Homo sapiens: one gene and its partner. The protein of the gene in region 1 purifies or fractionates together with the protein of each later gene. This does not show direct contact. Each region holds a gene or a part of one and is shown on either strand. Other genes may lie near its edges.

Region 1 (3,841 bases):
AAATTCCTCACCATGAAATTTATGAGCATAATACGGTGATTGTCCTTCAAAACCACTAAGTTTTGGGGTGGTTTGTTAATAGAACAGTAGATAACGGGAACACCTTGAATATGTTTTTCTATGCTTTTATTTTTCCAGTGTTTTATGTATTTTTGTTTTGTGTCTCTTAGAAATAACAGCTACTCGGGAGGCTGAACCCAGGAAGTTCAAGTGAGAATCACTTGAACACAGGAGAATCACTTGAACCCAGGAGGCGGAGGTTGCAGTGAGCCGAGCTCGCACCATTGCACTCCAGCCTGGGCGACAGAGCGAGACTCCGTCTCAAAAGAAAAAAAAGAAAGAAAGAAAGAACATGGGTTTTTTTCCCCCAATCTGAGAGTCTCAGAATCAAATTCCTGAGGAGGAAGTGAAAACCTTTCACAGTTAGTATGTATGCACAGTAAAGCCCGAAACCGCACATTAAGTCTTTCTGCCTTTAGACCCACATCTTCCCTGCCCATTCTTCCTCTAGGAAATCTGGCGCCCAGTTTTCTCTGCGTAGTTGGCGCGGGGCTTCAACTCCCGGCGCTCCTCCAGCTACTGGCACCTCCCTGGCCTCCAAGACGTCTACCAGACCTGCGTCTGCCCGGGGAAACTTTGAAGTTCCCTTCGGAACCTCGCAGGCTGACAAGCAAGTCAGAGCGATGGGTGGAGGAGGTTGCCATGGAGACAGGTCCAGGGCCAGAGGCGCGGGAGGGGGAGGCGGCAGCTTGGGCTCCGATTGGCTCTGCGGGCGCGCAGCGTTCCTCTGGCGCACATGCGCAGTGACGCCGAGGCGAGGTCGCGGCTAAGCAGAGGCGCCGGGGTTTCTGGGCCGGGCTTCTCAGGACCGGGCTGGAACGTGCAGCTCCTGGCCGGGACACTCTGTGCTTTGCGGGGAAGGGAAGTGGCGGAGCCCGAGGATCCGCTGCCGCTCGGGACTGAGCCCGCCACGCAGGCGCCTGTGCCAGCGTCGCCATTGTTGCCTGTGGCCTTAGGGCCGCTCCGGCTGCCCGTCGGCCGGGTCCCAGCGACAGGTATTGATGTCCGGGCGCAGCGCGCGAGTGTCCGCGCGATCAGTGACAGCCCGAGCCCGTCCACGCGCGGGCTCCCGTGCTCGTGGCTTGCGGGAGGGCAAAGACGGGGTGGAGGCTGCTGTGGGCCCAGTCCCAGCGTTGCGCGTCGCACGGTCCCCGACTCCCCCGCTGCCCTCGACCTCGACCCTGCGGCTGAAGAGGAGTAAGAGGCAGAGGGACTTGGCCGGGAAGGGGAGGCGACAGGAGGCAAGGCAAGGCTGTCGCATCACCTCCGCAGGGCCTTGTAAACAGTTGTCTTTGGTGGCACGACTGTGCCTCAGCAGGGCTCGGAGCTGGAGCCTGGGGAGAGGTGGTGTCGGTTCTCCTCCAGATCAGGCCGGTTCTAAGGTTTCCTTCGAGAATCCTGGTTTCGAATATATCCCTAAAGAACTGTCTCCTATAGAAGCACTTAAAGGACTTGAAGTCACACCAACCTCTTCACTCTTTTCCAGTCCAACCCGCTGGTCTTCCCAACCCTCTGATAGTGAAAGGCTAGAATCGGCTGGCATTAACATGCAACGCAGATAAATGGCTCGCCCTTTCCCCTGACAGTTCCCTTGGGAACCTTGAGCACTGTATTAAGAAGAAATTCTCCTAGTTTCTTCCAAGTAACAGATTCACTTTGTTATTGTTGAGAGTCCGTTCAGTCATTACAGCTTCTGTAACATCAGTGACTAAAATAATGAAACTATTTTCTCTATAAAAATGTTTAATTTTTGTTACAACAGGTTAGAGGTTTAATCTGTTGTTTGGCTTAGATTCGAGTCATTGCCTCTGACACTACCTTTTTAATAGCAGCTCCATCCCCCACCAACCCCAAGCAGATGGCAGTTCCCTTACAAGTCTAAGGATATAGGGGAGGAAGACAAGGTAAAGCTTATGTGTGTTCATCTATGCACACTGCGAGTCTGTTTCTGTGTGTGTATATGTATAGTAGAGTACACCAGGGATTCTTGACCTTGTGGTCCATGCTTGTGTTTCAGGGTCTCTTATCCATCCCTGCAAGTTCTGGGCTCAGAATTTGTCACTAAGGCTGCTAACTCTACCTTGATTCTGTTCTGCCCTCGGCTGCAGCAGCCTTTGATATAGTGTCCTTGTGACTCTAGCATGAGACTTCAAGCAGTTGGCTCACTACTGGAGAAATAAAGGATATTGCCAGATTGACTCTCCTGTCTGTAGCAATGTTAGCCTCAAGCAAGAGGATGAACAGTTCTTCACGTTCTCAAATCCTTCTAAGGTGGAAGTCAGACAAGGCTCAGAGTGGACCCTACAATGTTGAGAAGGAAATCCTTACTTCAAGATTCTTGCGTGACACTGAGACCTGTCGACAGAATTTTAGGAATTTTCCATACCCAGACCTGGCTGGTCCTCGAAAGGCATTGAGTCAACTCCGAGAGCTCTGCCTTAAGTGGCTGAGACCTGAGATTCACTCAAAGGAACAAATTTTGGAGCTGCTGGTGCTGGAGCAATTCCTGACCATCCTGCCTGGTGAGGTTAGGACTTGGGTAAAGTCCCAGTATCCAGAGAGCAGCGAGGAAGCAGTGACTCTGGTGGAGGATTTGACTCAGATTCTAGAAGAGGAAGGTGAGAATCATAGAGCAGAGAGGGGAGGAATCCCTGGGTGGTTAAAGAAGACAACTAGCACATCTGAGCAGCTCCTTTAAAGAAATCAGGGAGAGCACTGAGAGGTCCAGGATGCATTTTTTAAAAAGAAAGAAACTGGGGAGAACAAAGGTTAGTGAGTGAGAACAAGGCTTTAACATGAGCTCCATCCTGCATGGTGTTCTCCTTCCAGATTGCTTGGGAGCAAACACACATTATCTAAACCCCCAAGAAAAACGTCTTGAAATAATGACCAGACGCAACCAAATTACCACTGTGTGAGCCCTCAGAAAGTACCTTCAGAGGTTTGCACCATTCTACTAATAAATCATTTGCTTTGTGAATTGAATTTTACAATAAAATACTTCCAAAAAAGGAAGAAAGGGTCTAGAGAACATTCCCTTATTAAGAGATAACTCACAAAATTAATATCACATAAGGATTTAGTTAAAATGTGAATTTTGTTCATACTCTTTAAGATTTTTAGAGCGAGCTTGTTTTTGAAGTCTGTTTTGATGTCTTAGGACAAGTCATTGGCCCTTTCCTCTGATGCTTTGAAGTAGGAGTGCTGTTTTTGATTTCCTTCTTACTTCTCGATTTAAGAAAGTGTAGGCATCTATTTGGTGAGGGGTTTCCTAGGCTATTCAGAAAGGACTAATCTCCCTCATGACCTCTTTCTCTTCTCTAGCTCCTCAAAACTCTACCCTTTCCCAAGATACCCCAGAGGAAGACCCCAGAGGAAAACATGCTTTCCAGACAGGATGGCTAAATGACTTGGTGACCAAAGTGAGTGTGACTGTCTTTTCTGATTTTAAAATGCCTTCTTAGTGTGTGAGGACATTTTCTGACCTGGCCCTATAACTACTGTGCCCCCAGAAGCTCTATCAAGGACTTAAGCCCCAGTTTCTCTCCTATGTTATCTTGGTCTGTTAAGGTAGGTGAATGTACTATAAAGAAAAGGTGCTTCCATTGCCTTCCCTTGATATGTCTTTCCTTACTTTGACTTTGTCAGCAATATCACATAGAGAATACGAGATTGACCTCCACAGCCAGATGGATTTAGGTTTTGTTTCCCGGCTCTACCATTGGAACTGCAATTTGGGACAAGATACTTAACCTCTCTTAGCCTGAGTTATTCTACTCTC
Region 2 (3,568 bases), on another chromosome or scaffold:
GAGAATTTTTAGAATCACAATGTGATACCACCATCAGGATGGCCAAAGGGTGAAAAAAAACCCAACAAATCAGACAATGCTAAGTATTGGTGAGAATACAGAACAACCAGAACTGTCATACTGTGCAGTTGGGGATGTAACATGGTTCACCAACTTTGGAATACTATTTGGCAATATCACCTAAAGATGAAGACACATATATCCTACAACCTGGCAATTCTACTCTCAAAAGAAAGGCATAGATGTATCCACAAAACACATGCACAAAAATCATATGATTTTTCTCCATTTTTCTGTTAACGTGGTGAATTTATTGCCCTTCAGGCAGTAAATCTTCTCATATTGCTGAATTAGATCCTGTTTGGTGAATGGCAGCCATTCAATGTAAGACCAAAAAAGCTGACAGAATAGATTAAATTGTAGCATGTTCATACAATGAATGAATGAGAATGAAGCAATATAGATGATTCCCATAAACATAATACTGAGCGAATAAAATAAGACACCAAAGAATTCATACTGTATAATTCAACGTTAATACATTTCAAAAGGGGGCAAAACTCATCCCTGCTGTTAGAAGTCAGGGTTATGGTGGGCCTTGAGGAAACACGCATGGTGAGGGGGCGGCGGTCTTAGGCATGGGTGTACTCAGTTTGTGAAAATTCATCCAGTTTTATACTTGTGATTTGTGCCCTTTGTTGAATATATGCCCATATATGCCAAAACTGCAATTTAAAAGTTTACTTAAGAAAATTATACCGTCACACTACAAGTAACCTGCAATAGAAACTTCAGATTTATTCTTTTAAATATCTCCTTCTTCCACATTGACTTGCCATGGCCCTGTCCAATCTATTCCTCTACTGGCTGATGAGCTATGTGTGAACTGGGAACCATTTCTCTTTATATCACCTCCATGTTCTAGCACAGTACTTTGTACATGGTAGACCCTCAATAAATTGTGAATAAGTGCTCAACAGATTCTATCTATCTTTTGTTTCTTTCTTTACTTTGCCACTATCAATCACGGGGCTTTATTATTGCTATTTTAAAAAGTATTTGCCAATTTGCTTGGTGAAAACTGGTGTCTCATGCATATTTTAATTTGCATTTCTTTGATGATCGGTAAGATAAAATATTTTTTCATATGTTCAATGCTCATTTGTAGTTTTCCTCCTGTGAATGATCTCTTCATTCCCTTTACCCATTTTCCTCTTGGAGCTGTATTGATTCCTTACCATCTGTAGAATAAAATTACCCTCTCCCTTCCTACCTGACCACTAGCAGCAAAGGCTCATTCATTCTCTACTCCTGTCGTCACTATGTTCTCCATTGAGGAAAGGGGAATGAGCTCCTGTATTTTATACCAGGCAGGGAATAATGGGACCCTGAGCCAAGCAGCTACACACTTGCGAGATACTTAGAACTTAAAGTTAGACTCACATCCCTTATAATCAAATTTCAAAGAATATAAGACAACATGGCCCGACTCCTGCCATCATGACAACAGAGAAAATGGTGCCACCCACCTGTAGTGCAGGAAGACGGCTTTGCTGGTTGGGAATTACTTTTAATGAGATCATTCCTTTGGTTTCTTTCTATTAAAAAAAATGGACATAAAATTGTACAGAAAACTAAGTTGAATGATGTGATCATTCATTCAAAGTCCCAGGTTTTTTTCCCCAACAACCATCTTTACATTTTGAGATTTTGTAGGACAATTCCTCCTTTAATACAAAAGTGTCATGTGCCCCATAAATCAGCATAACAATATGAAGACATGCAAAGAGTAACAAAGAAAAGCTAACTAAAGACTTTTCCGAGCTGGGCACGGTGGCTCACGCCTGTTGTAATCCCAGCTCTTTGGGAGGCTGAGGTGGGCGCATCGTCTGAGGTCAGGAGTTCAAGACTAGCCTGGCCAACATGGTGAAACCCTGTCTCTACTAAAAATACAAAAATTAGCCAGCGTGATGGTGGGTACCTGTAATCCCAGCTACTTGGGAGGTTGAGGCAGGAGAATCGCTTGAACCCAGGAGGCGGAGGTTGCAGTGAGCCGAGATCACGCCATTGTACTCCAGCCTGGGTGACAGAGCGAAACTCCATCTCAAAAAAAAAAAAAAAAGACTTTTCTTCCCCATTCTTTACCCCAAAAAGTCCTGAAGAAGTTCCTAAAAATGAACTATGGCGCATATATATCCACGCCTTTCCCCATACCAACAAAAGCATTACAAATATTTACATACATTATGCATACATATGTATTGTTTGTTTTTAACAAAAATGGGATTCTACTATATACGTTATAGCTTGCTTTACTTCATTTGGCATTACTTCATGGAACACCAGATTGATGCTCTGGGTTATTTGCCCTGCTTTAGAATTTTACTAAATAAAGGCAGAAAATTATCATTTCTTACACAGATTAAAGACTAGCAGTGAAAAGAGCCCCCTCAAGAAGGTACAAATACTTTGACAGAGAGATGAGGTCACTGATACCAATGTGGATCAACACTTATGGAGACAATGGAAGGTCTTCATCTAGCATAGAAAATACCCACCATCGCCTTCTGCAGCTGATCCACTGAATGATTTGTCACATTTGTGCCATTGATTTCTAGGATCTCATCCCCCACGTGAAGGGAGCCTGCCATGAAATGAAAAATCAATCCACAAAAGAACAAAAGTTCAAACAGGAGCTGTCAATGTAACTCAAGATACCATAGAAGAGAAACCAGGATTTACAGCATGTTATGAAACAGATTGTGTCAAATACTCAGGATTGAAAACATTTGACTTGACAGTTTAAGATGGTCTCATCCTCCTTGGCCTCAGTAGTCCAACAGCACAATAAAACACCTTGTCCTCAAATTCCTGGAACTAGAGTGGCTACTGACTCCAGACTATGACACAGATGTATACACTAAAAAGAATAACAAAGCAAGGCAAAGAACTCAGTACTCCTCTTTCACCAGCAAGCTCCATGTTTCTTTGTTGTTTAGCTCAAACCCCAAAATGCTACCAAGTGGTACTGCTGTCCTTTCCAAGTCTAATGCAATGGGTGGCATGTGGCAATTGCTCAAATATTAACTTACTAGAAAAATATTGGTATAAATAGGTGTGAAAGAAGGCTCAGATAGGGAGATGGTGGCACTGGGCAATTCACATAGAGATCTTATCATGTACTGATTCTACAGAGCCAGTTATTAAGCCACAAAAAGTCTCTTGGCACACTCACAAAAATGCTACCAGTTTGGAGGATTATAAGCTTCATGCCCCACACCACTGAACAGGGAGTAAATTATTAATCCCTGAATCAAACCCCACCCAGAGCTCCCACAGAGTACCTTGTCTATGGATCATGCCACCATGAAGAATTCTGGCCACCGTACAGGACTGTTTTTCATTCAGCTTCAGCGTGATTCCCTGAAATAAAGGCGACGGCACAATAAGCTTTATTTTAAGCTCTTTCTGAGGTTATTTTAGAAAGAACTTACGGTAATTTCTCAGGAAAATATTTTCCATTTATACCCAGGATAGTCCTCAACTAGAACAGGCATGAAGCCTGCTT

The links. The genes of interacting proteins can lie anywhere in the genome.
Region 2: the proteins of ZNF287 (region 1) and MPP1 purify together in Homo sapiens (affinity purification with mass spectrometry; one large-scale study listed by BioGRID and IntAct). This does not show direct contact.

Annotation. Positions count from the first base shown.
Region 1 is NC_000017.11:16,566,166-16,570,006, reverse strand, and holds the start of ZNF287 (zinc finger protein 287), read left to right. Parts: upstream 1-1,306; intron 1,307-1,892; exon of another isoform or gene 1,893-1,964; intron 1,965-2,077; 5' UTR 2,078-2,275; coding exon 2,276-2,678; intron 2,679-3,384; coding exon 3,385-3,482; intron 3,483-3,841. UniProt on the Homo sapiens protein: May be involved in transcriptional regulation.
Region 2 is NC_000023.11:154,788,425-154,791,992, forward strand, and holds part of MPP1 (55 kDa erythrocyte membrane protein), read right to left. Parts: intron 3,424-3,568; coding exon 3,345-3,423; intron 2,645-3,344; coding exon 2,559-2,644; intron 1,599-2,558; coding exon 1,530-1,598; intron 1-1,529. UniProt on the Homo sapiens protein: Essential regulator of neutrophil polarity. Regulates neutrophil polarization by regulating AKT1 phosphorylation through a mechanism that is independent of PIK3CG activity.